Linked DNA regions of Homo sapiens. The protein of the gene in region 2 purifies or fractionates together with the protein of the main gene of each other region. This does not show direct contact. Each region holds a gene or a part of one and is shown on either strand. Other genes may lie near its edges.

Evidence for each region. Proteins that work in one complex are often made in the same cells at the same time.
Region 1: the proteins of SIRT4 (region 2) and SNX3 purify together in Homo sapiens (affinity purification with mass spectrometry; 2 studies listed by BioGRID and IntAct, with this or other methods). This does not show direct contact.

What each region holds. Positions count from the first base shown.
Region 1 is NC_000006.12:108,215,929-108,223,503, forward strand, and holds part of SNX3 (sorting nexin-3), read right to left. Parts: intron 7,118-7,575; coding exon 7,022-7,117; intron 1-7,021. UniProt on the Homo sapiens protein: Phosphoinositide-binding protein required for multivesicular body formation. Specifically binds phosphatidylinositol 3-phosphate (PtdIns(P3)).
Region 2 is NC_000012.12:120,304,756-120,312,330, forward strand, and holds part of SIRT4 (NAD-dependent protein lipoamidase sirtuin-4, mitochondrial), read left to right. Parts: intron 1-7,575. UniProt on the Homo sapiens protein: Acts as a NAD-dependent protein lipoamidase, biotinylase, deacetylase and ADP-ribosyl transferase. Catalyzes more efficiently removal of lipoyl- and biotinyl- than acetyl-lysine modifications.

The DNA.
Region 1 (7,575 bases), on a different chromosome or scaffold from region 2:
AAAAAAAATAAATTTTTAAAAATGTTATTCTGGAGCTCAAAATACTTGTTTTGATTAAATAGCACCTAGCTATTTCACAGGTTAGTTTGGTTTCTCTACCCTAGCACTACTGAGAATCAGATAAGTTTTGTACTGGGGGGCTTTCTTGTGCATTCTTTTCTTTCTTGAGATGGGGTCTTGCTCTGTCACCCAGGCTGGAGTTCCGTGGTGCGATCATGGCTCGCTGCAGCCTCCCCCAGACTCAGATGATCCTCCTGCATCAGCCTCCCAAATAGCCGGGACACTACAGGTACATAGCGTGCTACCACGCCTGGCTAATTTTTCTATTTTTTGTGGAGATGGTGTTTCACTGTGTTGGCCAGGCTGGCATTCTTTTCTTTAGCAGCATCCCTAGCCTCTGCCCACTAGACAACATAGCACCCCCAGCTGAGACAATAAAAAATGTCTCTAGACAGTGTCAAACGTCTCCTGGGGGATAAAACTGCCTTTGGTGGAAAACCATCAATCTATCATACTAATGTCTTCAAATCAAGACCCCTGTCTTAGGCTTCTTGTGGTTATTTTAAGAAAAACTGGGCATACAACAGAAGCTCAAATATCTGTTAAATGACCAACCACTTAGCTGGATCCTTACTTTAAACGCAAACAGAGAAATGTGTAAGCAAACAATCAGAACAAGGAGAAATATATATAGTAAACTGATACATATTTTTCTTTTCACCAATAATACAAATTACACATATTCAAAAAAATTAAAACTTTAAACCCTTGATATAGTTTCTACAACGAGTTGTTTATCCTCAAACAAAATTCAATAGGGTAAAAAAGGGAAAGAGCAACTCGACTTCATATAGATTAACAAAAAACAAAATAAAAACAAAAAAACCAAATGTCCAAATAAACTTTATAATCCCTTCCTAGATTTACTCTCCTCAGATGACCAATGATGAAGATATCTATGGATTTGTCTCCGTAAATTTATGCTAGCATTCTCAGATCTCACCCCCATGTTAACATCTGTTTAGTTGAGAGTTAAAATCTGCAGGGACCTTCTATAACTGAGAAACAAAGGAATGCTAACCATTACGTTCCAGTAGAATGGCTATCTGGTGGGCAGGGAAAAATATCTGTATCTACACAATTATTATTTAAAAAAAGAATTCTGGAACCACTGTGTTAAATAAATGACCACCATTAATTCAGGGTAGAATTTAGCATGAAACTTAAGAAAAGGATAGCTCAAGGATGTCAGTTAAAGAAAGAAGGAAAATGATAAAAAATGTAACAATATATATATAATTAAATATATATAAATTTCATATATAATGGGAATTTAAGAAAAGGATAGCTATGCATTATCCTCTGTAGAGATACACTCTTCCTAACATATTCAAACTAGTCATTCAAATGGATGGGGAGGTGGTAGGCAACAGGATTAATGATCTATAAAAATCATAAATGGCTCATCCAGCTAAGATTCTCTTCTACATCAAATTATTTTTGCTGAAGCAGTCTGAAAACACCTAACTGGAATTCTAACACCAGGTTGGGTGCGGTAGCTCACATATGTAATCCCAGCACTTCAGGAGGCCAAGGTGGGTGGATCACCTGAGGTCAGAAGTTCAAGACCAGCCTGGCCAACATGGTGAAACCCTGTGTCTACTAAAAATACAAAAAATTAGCCGGGCATGGTGGTGCATGCTTGTAACCCCTTTACTCAGGAGGCTGAGGAGAATTGCTTGAGCCTGGGAGGCAGAGATTGCAGTAAGCCGGGACTGCACCACGGTACTCCAGCCTGGGCGAGAGCTAGACACCGTCTCAAAAAAAAAAAAAAAAAATTCTAATACTAATTAAAAAGTCATGAATGCAAAGATATGTGCGTGCATGTGGGGTGAGAAATAGGAGAATATCTGGTGAGCACAATATATTGAAAGCTAAAGCAAACTAGAATAAAAGCTAAAAGATCTGACCATAATACATGTCAGCTAATTTCTAGCTTAGTTTAACAGATCTTAGTTAAAAGTACTAATATACCACAAAATAACTTGATTACATTGTTCTTTGCAATACTGTAATACGAGTAAAACTTTCACATGGATTTAACTCTCAATATATTTAACTGGTCTAATGTTAAATGTGAAGTATTGTGCTTCAAAGGACAACATCAAGAAAGTGAAAAACAACCCAGAGACTGGGAGATATGTGCAAATTATGTATCTGATAGGGAACTCTAAGAGTCTTATATATTCTCGACATAACTCTATAATAAAAAGATGAACCCATTGAAAAAGGCAAAAGCTCTCAATAAAGATGTCTCCAAAGAAGATACATAAATGACCAGTAAGTATATGAAAAGAAAATCAACATTAGTGGCCATTAGAGAAATAAAAATCAAAACCACAATGCAATACCCCTTCACAAACAGTAGGATAGCTATAATAAAGAAGACAGGCAATTGGTAAGGATGTGGAGAAAAGTAGAACCTCACATTGCTGGTAAGAATGTAAAATTACACAGCTGCTTTGGAAAAACGGTCTGCCAATTCCTCAAAAGGTTAAAAAGAGTTATGACCCAGCAATGTACTGGTAGGTATATACTGAAAAGAAATGAAAACACATGCAGACAGAAACCTATGCACAAATGTTCACAGCAGCACTACCAATAACAGCCAAAAAGTAGAACAAAATGTCCACCAAATAAGTGTATAAATAAGATGTGGTATAAGCATACAATAGGATATTATTTAGGAATAAAAAGAAATGAAGTAATTGATGCATGTTAGAAAAGCATGAACTGTGAAAACATGTTAAGTGAAAGAAGCCAGACACAAAAGATCACATATTGTGGGCTTCCATTTACATATGCCCAGAATGGGCAAATCCACAGAGAAAGGAGACTAGCAGGTGGTTGCCATAGGCTGAGTGAGGAAGGGTTGGGGAGAAATCAGTGGTGTCTACTAATGGGGACAGGGTTTCTTTTATTGGGTGATAAAAATGCTCTAAAATTGACTAGTGCTCTAAAATAGTGATGGTTGCACAACTCTGTGAACATATTAAAAACCAGTGAATTATACACTTTAAATGGGTGAATTGCATGGTATGTGAATTATATCTCAATAAAGCTGTTACTAAAAACAAAAGCGGTCGGGCGGGGTGGCTCACGCCTGTAATCCCAGCACTTCGGGAGGCCAAGGCGGGCGGATCACAAGGCCAGGAGATCGAGACCGTCTTGCTAACACGGTGAAACCCCGTCTCTACTAAAAATTTTTAAAAAATGAATAAATAAATTTACAAAAAAAAGCAAAATATACACTCAGCAAACGTTTATTAAACATTTCCAGTGTGCCACATGGTATGTCAAGCAAAGCCCAAAGCCTATGTATCAAGACACTTCTCAGCTAGGTGTGGTGGCTCATGCCTGTAATCCCAGCACTTTGGGAGGCCAAGGCAGGAGGATTACTTGAGGCCAGGAATTCAAGACCAGCCTGGGCAACATAGTGAAGCCTCATCCTTACAAAAAATTTTTTAAAATTAGCTGGACATGGTGGCTCATGCCTGTAGTCCCAGCTACTTGGGAGGCTGAGGCAGGAAAATCACTTGAGACCAGGAGTTGGAGGATATTATAGTATGCTATGATCACGCCACCGCATTTCAGCCTGGGCAACAGAGCAAGGCTCTGTCAATCAATCAATCAATCAATCTCCCAACCATCTGTAATTTGTAATATAGTGAGATATAAATCTTTATTTCCTAATAGACAAATATTTCAACTCCATTTGCTGAATTCCTTTCCCACTGAATGACAATGCTATTTTTGTTATGAACTAAATTCCCTATAAATACATGGGTCAAACTCTAAACTCTATTATATTCCACTAATCTATTTGCCCAACCTAAAGCAATATACACTGCATAACAGTGTTTCCCATCAGAGATGGACCACTTAAGATAATAACTGTGGTGCCTTAAGATTATAATGGAGGTGAAAAATTCCTATTGCCTAGAGATGTCTTGGTGATCCTGACTCTGTGCAGGCCTAGGCTACTATGTATATTTGTGACTTAATTTTTAAGAAAAAGTTAAAAAAATTTAAATAGAGAAAAGCTTATAGAATAAGAATATAAAGAACATATTTTTGTACATTTGTTCAATGTGTCTGTGTTTTAAGCTAAGTGTTATTACAAGAGTCAAAAAGTTAAAGTAAAAAGTTTAAAAAGTAAGCTAAGGTTAATTTATTATTGAAGAAAAATATTTTATAAATTATAAATTTCAATGTACAGTGTTTATAAAGCCTGCAGTAATAAACAGTAATGTCCTAGGTCTTCTCATTCACTCGCCACATACTAACTGACTCACCCAGAACAACTTTCAATCCTGCAAGCTCCATTTATGGTAAGTGCCCTATACAGGTGTACTATTTAAAAAATCTTCCATGCTTTAAAAAAAAAAAAGTCTTCCACGCTGTATTTTTTACCATATCTTTTATATGTTTAGATGCACAAATGCTTCCCACTATGTTACAACTGCCTGTAGTATTAAGTACAGTAACATGTTGGATAGGCTTGTAGTCTAGGAGTAATAGGCTGTACCATATAGCCTAGGTGTGTAGTAGGCTACACCACCTGGGTTTGTGTGAGTATACTCATATGATGTTTGCACAAACAATGAAATCACCTAAGGATGCATTTCTTAGAATGTATTCTCATCATTAAGTGCCATATGACTACACCACATTGTTTGAATTACTATAGCCTTAAGATATGTTTTGGGTCAGGCACAGTGGCTCACACCTGTAATCCCAGCACTTTGGGAGGCCGAGGAGGGCGGATCACCTGAGGTCAGGAGTTCGAGACCAGCCTGGCCAACATGATGAAACCCCATCTCTACTAAAAATATAAAAAAAATTAGCCGAGTGTGGTGGTGGGTGCCTGTAATCCCAGCTACTCGGGAGGCTGAGGCAGGAGAATTGCTTGAACCCCGGAGATGGAGGTTGCAGTGAGCCGACATGATGCCACTGCACTCCAGAGTGAGGCTCAGTCTCAAAAAAAAAAAAGATGTTTTGATGTCTGGTAGAACAAATAACCTGCTGCCCACTATATACTGAAAATATTTTTTGGTTATTCTTGAGCTTTTTCTGATTCTAAAGCTCATAAATAAATCTGCAACTTTATAAACAGCCCTACTGAAATTTCTACTACAATCTTATGAATTTATAAATAAGTTAGAAGATACTGCTCTACTTCATGCAGGTCTCTGCTAATGTCACCTAGAGTGAGGCCTTCCCTTGTGCTCTATATGAGAGTGGCTCCCCTGGCACTTCCTACTTCCCTTAGTTTAGCTTTGTTTTTTTTTTTAGAGCTTCTCATCATCTGACATCTATATATTTTACTATATTTTTCCTGCCTTCTCTTCAACAACCCCCTCCCCCGCAATTTACCTAATAGGATATAAGCACCATAAAAGAGGGGACCTTAATTTGTTCATAGCTCTACCTGTAACTCCTAGAACACAAAGGACGAGCTAAAATGTTTATAAAATAAAAAAATCTTCAACAGTAAACATTCCAAACGAGGAATACAGTATTACAAGGAATACAGTATTACACTTTTTTTTTTTTTTTTTTTTTTTTTTTTTTTGAGACAGGGCCTGGCTCTGGTGCCCATGCTGGAGTGCAGGGGCAAGACTACAGCTCACTGCAACCTCTGCCTCCTGGACTCAAAGTGATCCTCTTGCCTCAGCCTCCTGAGTGCTGGGACTACAGGTGCATGTCACCATGCCTGGCTAATTTTTGTATTTTTTGTAGCGATGGGGTTTCGCATGTTGCCCACGCTGGTCTCGAACTCCTTGGCTTAAGTGATCCACCCACGTTGGCCTCCTGAAGTGCTGGGATTACAGGCGTAAGCCACTGCACCTGGCCCCTCTTTATTTAGGTCTGGTCTTTTGGTAAAGTTTGAGAGCTTTCTTAACACAGATTTTGTATTTCTAGTTTTATTCATATTTAAAAATTTTGGAAGAGATGGGGCCTCACTATGTTCCCCAGGCTGGTCTTGAACTGCTGGGCTCAAGAGATCCTCCTGACTCGGCCTACCAAAGTACCGAGATTATAGGCATGAGCCACCATGCCCGGCCTTCTTTACATTTTTGTTGGAATGCTATGATCTGCATATTTTGTGCTCATATGCAGCCACTTTTATCTTAGGCTAGAAACAGAAAAAAAAAGAAAACCCTTATTAAACTTGAGAAATGAGTACAGACTAGCCTTCATCTAGTTCAGGACTCCTACCATACCCACACCTTTTTACCTACTTTCTAGTCACAAAATAACTTTTCATCATTCTGAGCACACCACGTCCTTCCATGACTCCTTGCCTCTGATGTCATTCTGAGGCAGGGCTGAAATGAGAGACACCAGAGTGAGACCTTGCTTTAATTTATTTTGATGCCAAAGCTACCAAATTCTATTCTAAGAGAAGATCAGGCATGTAACAGTGTTTTTAAATTGCCGGCAGCAACCCATTAGTGGATCATGGCCATCATTTAAAAACGCTAATCTGAAGAATATCAGCACATATCACACAGAGTGAGGTCATTACTGCTTTATGAAACTTCTGTTACATGAACATATATGTGATGAAAAAAACTTATATGTCACTAAAACAAAATTGGAAATACACTGACATTTATAAAATGTATTGAGGAAGAGAAACTTGGCTTAAGTGTGTGGAGAGGGGAAGATGGAATAGGACGATGAGGGAAAGGAAGGAAGTAATAGCAACAAGGTTCTAAGAAGTGTTATTGAAGTGTGAGTCAGCAAAGACCTCAACTGGGCCAAAGCAGACAAGAGAAAGAGTTCTAAGGAAAATTTACACAGACTCTACCTCTATAAAATGACACTGAACTATTTGAAAAAAAGAAATCATATTTGCTTTTACCCATTTTATTCAATATCATTTTCCTGAGAAATATTAAACATTAAAACTTGGAATGTTTTGCTTTAAAGTTGCATCATAAATCATTCTTACCTTGCTCTCTCTTTCTAATTCACTTCGCAGCCATTCAAAGTCACTGTATCTTCTTCTAACAGTAGATTCTTTCAGCTTGAAAATAGGAAGATTTGTCTGAAACAAAAAAAGTTAGTCCTAAATTGAAGCACATTAAGGAAACTTCAAAAAAATGGGGGGACGGGTATGGCAAAACAAAAGAAATCATGACTTTCTTTTTCTTTTTTTGAGACAGAATCTCCCTTTGTTGCCTAGGCTGGAGTGCAATGGCACGATCTCGGCTCACTGCAAACTCCACCTCCCAGGTTCAAATGATTTTTCCGCCTCAGCCTCCCAAGTAGCTGGGATTACAGGCACCCACCATCATGCCCAGCTAATTTTTGTATTTTTGTAGAGATGGGGTTTTACCATGTTGCCCAGGCTGGTCTTGAACTCCTGACCTCAGGTGATCCGCCCGCCTCGGCCTCCCAAAGTGCTGGGATTACAGGCATGAGCCACGGCACCCGGCCGAAATCATGATGTTTTTAATATGACCTTTTACCCATAACAAAATAAAACTTTGCTAGTTCTTTTTT
Region 2 (7,575 bases):
CCTGGCAAACACAGTGAGACTCTGTCTCTATATAAGTAAAGTAAATTTTATATATATATATATATATATATATATATATATTTTTTTTTTTTTTTTTTTTTTTTAAAGAAAGTTGAGGCCGGGTGTGGTGGCTCACGCCTGTAATCCCAGCACTTTGGGAGGCCAAGGCAGGCAGATTACCTGAGGTCAGGAGTTCAAGACCAATCTGGTCAACATGGTGAAACCCCGTCTCTACTAAAAATACAAAAATCTGTTGGAAGTGGTGGCACGCACCTGTAATTCCAGCTACTCAGGAGGCTGAGGCAGGAGAATCGCTTGAACCTGGGAGGTAGAGGTTGCAGTGAGCTGAGATCATGAGCTGAGATCATGCCACCACACCCCAGCCTGGGCAACAGAGCAAAACTCCGTCTCAAAAAGAAAAAAAAAAAAGAAAGTTGAGCAAGCTAGGGTGATTTTCTTTTATTTTCTTTTGTGTTTGTGTGTGCACGTGTGTGTGTGTGTGTGTGTGTGTGTATGACAGGCTTTCACTCTGTCACACAGACTGGGATGTGGTGGTGTGATTATAGCTCACTTCAGCCTCAATCTCTTGGGCTCAAGTGATCCTTTCACCCCAGCCTCCTAAGTAGCTGGGACTACAGGCAAACGCCACCGTGCCCAGCTAATTTTTAATTTAATTTTTATTTTTTGTAGAGACGAAGTCTTACTATGTTGCCCAGGCTGGTCTCGAACTCCTGGGCTCATGTGATCCTCCTGCCTTGGCATCTCAAAGTGCTGGGATGACTAGTGTGAGCCACTGTGCTTGGCCTTGAAGCTAGGGTATTTATTCACCATCTCTCATCCCTCATGGGTCCAGGATCACTCTAGGGGAATTAATTCCCTAACATTTTGACTCTGCTCCTCCCAAGGAGGCTTCCGTGGGCAGAGAACATCTGAGGCAAGAGAGACACAGGAAACTGCTTGTAAGAAAATTGTGTAGGCTGGGCGCGGCGGCTCACGCCTGTAATCCCAACACTTTGGGAGGCTGAGGCAGGCGGATCACGAGGTCAGTTGATCGAGACCATCCTGGCTAACATGGTGAAACCCCGTCTCTACTAAAAATACAAAAAATTAGCTGGGCGCGGTGGCGGACGCCTGTAGTCCCAGCTACTCGGGAGGCTGAGGCAGGAGAATGGCGTGAACCTGGGAGGTGGAGCTTGTGGTGAGCCGAGATCGCGCCACTGCACTCCAGCCTGGGTGACAGAGCGAGACTCCGTCTCAAAAAAAAAAAAAAAAGAAAGAAAGAAAATTGTGTCCACCAGGGTGCTGTGGTTCATATCTGTCATCCCAGCAACTCAGGAGGCTGAAGCAGGAGGATTACTTGAGGCCAGGAGATCAAGACCTGCCTGGGTAACACAGCCAGACTCCGTCTCTACAAAAAATTTTTTTAAGAAAGGAAATTGGCTGGGCACGGTGGCTCGCGCCTGTAATCCCAGCACTTTGGGAGGCTGAGTTGGGCGGATCACCTGAGGTCAGGAGTTCGAGACCAGCCTGACCAACATGGAGAAACCCTGTCTCTACTAAAAATACAAAATTAGCTGGGCGTGGTGGTGCATGCCTGTAATCCTAGCGACTCGGGAGGCTTAGACAGGAGAATAGCTTGAACCCAAGAGGCGGAGGTTGCGGTGAGCCGAGATTGTGCCATTGTACTCCAGCCTGCAGCCTGGGCAACAAGAACAAAACTCCGTCAAAAAAAAAAACAAACAAAAAAACAGAGAAAGGAAACTGGGACGGGTGCGGTGGCTCATGCTTGTAATCCCAGCACTTTGGGAGGCAGAGGCAGGCAGATCACTTGAGGTCAGGAGTTCGAGACCATCCTGGCCCACACGGTGAAACCCCATCTCTACTAAAAATACAAAAAATTACCTGGGCATAGTGGCGCACGCCTGTAGTCTCAGCTATTTGGGAGGCTGAGGCACGAGAGTCGCCTGAACCTGGGAGGCAGAGGTTGCAGTGAGCCAAGATTGTGCCACTGCACTCCAGCCTGGACAACAGAGTGAGACTCTATCTCAATAAAAAAACAAAAAGAAAGGAAACTGTTCGAACGTGGCCTTTAGCATGTTCTGAGGAAAATATGAGCTGAACACCAATAGCATGTGCTATAAACTGCTGGGTTTCCAATGCCTAGGATGGCTAGATACATAGACCATAACGTAGCCGGGCAGTAGTCAGAACTCAATCAATAATGAGGGAACAGATACATGGGAGGGTATCATGCTTATGGGTCTGGCAATAATTGTAGCTAATTGGAGACTTATTTCTTTAAGCCCTAGAGAGGCTCCTCTGAGGGCTGAAGTCAGTCTGCCAATGCTGAAATATTTACTGGGTGCCTAGAATGTATGGTGTACATACGTTACACTATGTAGTACATTATAACACTAACTACTGTGCTTCTTAGTGGTCAGAACCAAAGTATAGGCTGGGCTCAGTGGCTCACACCTATAATCCCAGCATTTTGAGAGGCTGAGGGGGCGGATCACTTGAGCTCAGGAGTTTGAGACCAGCCTGGCCAATATGTCGAAACCCAGTCTCTACTAAAAATAAAAGATTGGCCAGGCGTGGTGGCGGGCGCCTATAGTCCCAGCTACTCGGGAGGCTGAGGCAGGAGAATTGCATGAACATGGGTGGCAGAGGTTGCAGTGAGCCAAGATCGTGCCATTGCACTCCAGCCTGGGCGACAGAGGGAGATTGTCTCAAACAACAAACAAAAACCAAAGTATAAAACATGGCCCACTTTATATGCAAGAACTTTGTAATATTTGGGAAGACACAAAAATAACATAATTGGCCGGGCACGGTGGCTCACGCCTGTAATCCGAGCACTTTGGGAGGCCGAGGCAGGGGATCACCTGAGGTCAGGAGTTCAAGACCAGCCTGACCAACACAGTGAAACCCTGTCTCTACTAAAAATACAAAATTAGCCAGGCATGGTGGTGCATGCCTATAATCCCAGCTACTCAGGAGGCTGAGACAGGAGAATCATTTGAACCCGGGAGGCAGAGGTTGTAATGAGCTGAAATCGCACCATTGCACTCCAGCCTGGGCAACAAGAACGAAACTCCTTCTCAAAAAACAACCAAGCAAACAAACAAAGAAAAGCACATAATTAATGATAAATGACAACGCATGATTGTGAAATTGTGTGGTTCTTGATTTATATGCTGTGCATGTTCAAATAAACAGATTTAGTAAAGATTGGAATAATCAGTTGAGAAAGCTTTTTAAAAAAAAAATTTTTTTTTTTAAATAGAGACAGGATCTTGCTGTGTTGCCTAGTCTGGTCTCGAACTCCTAAGCTCAAGCCCTCCTCCTGCCTTGATCTTCCAAAGTGTTGGGATTACAGGTGTGAGCCACCATGCCTGGCCCAAGAAAGCTTTTTTTTTTTTTTTTTTTTTGAAACACAGTCTTGTTCTTGTTGCCCAGGCTGGAGTGCAGTGGCACGGTCTCGGCTCACTGCAACCTCCGCCTCCTGGGTTCAAGTGATTCTCCTGCCTCAGCCTCCCAAGTAGTTGGGATTACAGGTGCCTGCCACCACCCCCAGCTAATTTTTTGTATTTGTAGTAGAGGTAGGGTTTCATCATGTTGGCCAGGCTGGTCTCGAACTCACTCCTGACCTCGTGATCCGCCTGCCTCGGCCTCCCAAAGCGCTGGGATTACAGGCGTGAGCCACAGCGCCTGCCCCAAGAAAGCTTTTATGGGTACAGGGGGCTTGAGATTGGCTCAGGTTTGTCTAGGCAAGAGCGGGAAACAGGGCTTTCCAAATGAAGGGAAGTTGTAGATCCCAGAGGAGTCTGGCCTGGCCTCTGTAGAGGTTTGGACCTGGGACTTGCAGAAACCAGATTGTCTGGGAAAGTTAGGCCCAAATCATGGTTACATTTGAAAATCAGGCAGTGCAGTTGGGTCTGCTGTGAGACACCAAAGGGGTTTATTAGTGGTTTCTGAGCAAGCAAGCAACATGATAAAAATAGCATTTGAGGAAGGCTAAACAGGATTAAAAAGAGCAGGTCAGGGAGGTCAGCCTGAAAGACCTAGACTAAGGTGGTATCCAGGGAATTTGAGTTAATGATGCTTATGGATTCATTAAAACAATTTTTTCCGCCGGGCGTGGTGGCTCATGCCTGTCATCTCAGCACTTTGGGATGCCGAAGCGGGTGGATAACCTGAGGTCGGGAGTCAAGACCAGCCTGACCAACATGGAGAAACCCTGTCACTACTAAAAGTACAAGAACAACAAAAAATTAGCCGGGCATGGTGGCACATGCCTGTAATCCCAGCTACTCGGGAGGCTGAGGCAGGAGAATCGCTTGAACCTGGGAGGCGGAGGTTGCGGTGAGCCAAGACTGTTGTGCCATTGCCCTCCAGCCTGGGCGACAAGAGTGAAACTCTGTCTCAAAAAAAACTCACAATTTTTTTCATGAAGAAAATCTGTTCTTTTAATAATGAAAATTTCAAACTTCACAAAAGTAAAGAGAATTGTATAATGAATTCTCATATACCATCACCCAGATTCCAAGGTTTTATCAAGATTTTGTCATGTCTACTTTATCCATTCTGTCTCTTCTTAAGCATTTTAAAACAATCCAGGACTTCTTGACATTTCACAGGGGCCTTTTTTTCTTTTCTTTTTTTTTTTTTTTTGAGACAGAGTCTCACTCTGTCGCCTAGGCTGGAGAGCAGTGGTGAGATCTTGGCTCACTGCAACCTCCACCTCCCGGGTTCAACCGATTCTCCTGCCTCAGCCTCCTGAGTAGCTGGGATTACAGGCATGCACCACCATGCCCGGCTAATTTTTGTATTTTTGGTAGAGACTGGGTTTCACCGTGTTGGGCCAGGCTGGTCTCAAACTCCTGACCTCAGGTGATCTGCCTGCCTTGGCCTCCCAAAGTGCTGGGATTACAGGCATGAGCCACTGTGCCCGCTTTCTTTTTTTTTTTTTTTTTTTGAGATGAAGTCTTGCTCTGTCACCTAGGCTGGAGTACAATGGCATGATCTTGGCTCACTGTAACCTCTACATCCTGGGTTCAAGCAATTCTCCTGTCTCAACCTCCTGAGTAGCTGGAATTACAGGTGTGCACCACCACACCCGGCTAATTTTTTTGTATTTTTGTAGAGACAGGGTATCACCATGTTGGCCAGGCGGGTCTCAAACTCCTGACCTCAACTGATCCACCCATCTTGGCCTCCCAAATTGCTGGGATTACAGGTGTGAGTCACCGTGCCCGGCCTGGCCTTTTTTTCTTTTTTAGACAGGGTCTGGTTCTGACACCCAGGCTAGAGTGCAATGGTGCCATCATAACTCCCTGTAACCTAGAACTCCTGGGTAATTAGAACTCCAGCTAATTAAAAAATTTTTTTTGGCTAGGCGTGGTGGCTCACGTCTGTAGTCTCAGCACTTTGGGAGGCCGAGGTGGGCAGATCACAAAAATTAGCTGGGCGTGGTGGCAGGCGCCTGTAATCCCAGCTGCTCGGGAGGCTGAGGCAGGAGAATCGCTTAAGCCCAGGAGGCGGAGGTTGCAGTGAGCCGAGATCGCGCCATTGCACTCCAGCCTGGGCGACAGAGCAAGACCCCGTCTCAAAAAACAAAGACAAGCCAAAAAAATTTTTTTTGTAGAGAGAGCGTCTTGCTGTCTACCCAGACTGGTCTGGAACTCCTGAGCTCAAGCGATTCTCTTGCTTTACGCTCCCAAAGTGCTGGGATTACAAGGTGTGAGCCACCATGCCTGGCCACAGGGGTTCTTTTAAGAGAAGAAAATCAACATAATCTGATGGCTGACTAGAACTAAAAGGAGAAAAATGAGGCTGGTTGTGGTGGCTCACACCTGTAGTCCCAGCACTTTGGAAGACTAAGGCAGGAGGATTGCTTGAGCCTAGGAGTTCGAGGCTGCAGTGAGCTATGATCATGCCACTGCACTCCAGGTAAGAGCCACCACGCCTGGCCAAGACCCTGTCTCTTTTTTTTTTTTGAGACGGAGTCTCGCTCGTTGCCCAGGCTGGAGTGCAGTGGTGCTATCTCGGCTCACTGCAAGCTCCGCCTCCCGGGTTCACGCCATTCTCCTGCCTCAGCCTCCCGAGTAGCTGGGACTACAGGCGCCCGCCACCACGGCCGGCTAATTTTTTGTATTTTTAGTAGAGATGGGGTTTCACCGTGTTAGCCAGGATGGTCTCGATCTCCTGACCTCGTGATCCGCCCGCCTCGGCCTCCCAAAGTGTTGGGATTACAGGCGTGAGCCACCACGCCCAGCCTGACCCTGTCTCTTAAAAAAAAAAAAAAAAAAAAAAAAAATAGGCCGGGCGCAGTGGCTCATGCCTGTAATCCCAGCATTTTGGGAGGCCAAGGCGGGCAGACCACCTGAGGTCAAGAGTTCGAGACCAGCCTCAACATGGAGAAACCCCGTCTCTACTAAAAATACAAAATTAGCCGGGCGTGGTGGTGCATGCCTGTAATCCCAGCTACTCGGGAGGCTGAGGCAGGAGAATTGCTTGAACCTGGGAGGCAGAGGTTGCGGTGAGCCAAGATCGCGCCATTGCACTCCAGCCTGGGCAACAAGAGTGAAACTCCGTCTCAAAAAAATAAAAAATAAAATAAAAAAATAAAAACAGACACAAAGTGCTCTCCCTCACTGGCTCAAGCTCTGGTGATTGGAGAGGTGAGAAGGGGGGCCAGGTGCAGTGGCTCACACCTGTAATCCCAGCACTTTGGGAGGCCAAGGCAGGCGGATCACCTGAGGTCGGGAGTTTGAGACCAGCCTTACCAACATGGAGAAACCCCGTCTCTACTAAAAATACAAAAAAAATTAGTCGGGTGTGGTAGAGCCTGCCTGTAATCCCGGCTACTCAGGAGGCTGAGGCAGGAGAATCGCTTGAGACCAGGAGGTGGAGGTTGCGGTGAGCCAAGATCATGCCATTGCACTCCAACCTGGGCAATGAGAGTGAAACTTGCTCTCAAAAAAAAAAAAAAAAAAAAAAAAAAAAAGAGGTGAGAAGAGAACCAGGAGACACTGTGTCCTGGAAACCAAGAAGGAGAAGCATTTTAGAAGGAATGGTAATAGACAGTGGCAAATTCAGCAGATGAGCAAGGGAAAGTATAGAGGGAAAAACGCAGGTTTGGGCATTAAGGAAATCAGCAGGCAAGGCATTTGCAGTCATGTTAAGGATAAAAGTGAGCTATAGCAGAAGGTTAGGAAGGAGTGTATAGGAAGGAAATTGATGGGCTGGGCGCAGTGGCTCACACCTGTAATCCCAGCACTTTGGGAGGCCAAGGAGGGAGGATCACTTGAGGCCAGGAGTTTGAGACCAGCCTGGGCGACACAGTGAAACACCGTCTCTACCAAAACTACAAAAATTAGCTGGGCGAGATGGCGCGTGTTTGTAGTGCAGTCCCTGCCACTCAGGAGGATGAGGTGGGAGGATAACCTGAGCCCAGGAGGTTGAGGCTGCAGTGAGCTGAGATCGTGCCACTGCATTCCAGCCTGGGCAACAGCCAGACCCTGTCTCCAAAAATAAAAAAAATAAAATAGAAAGTATGGCTAAAATGGGGTG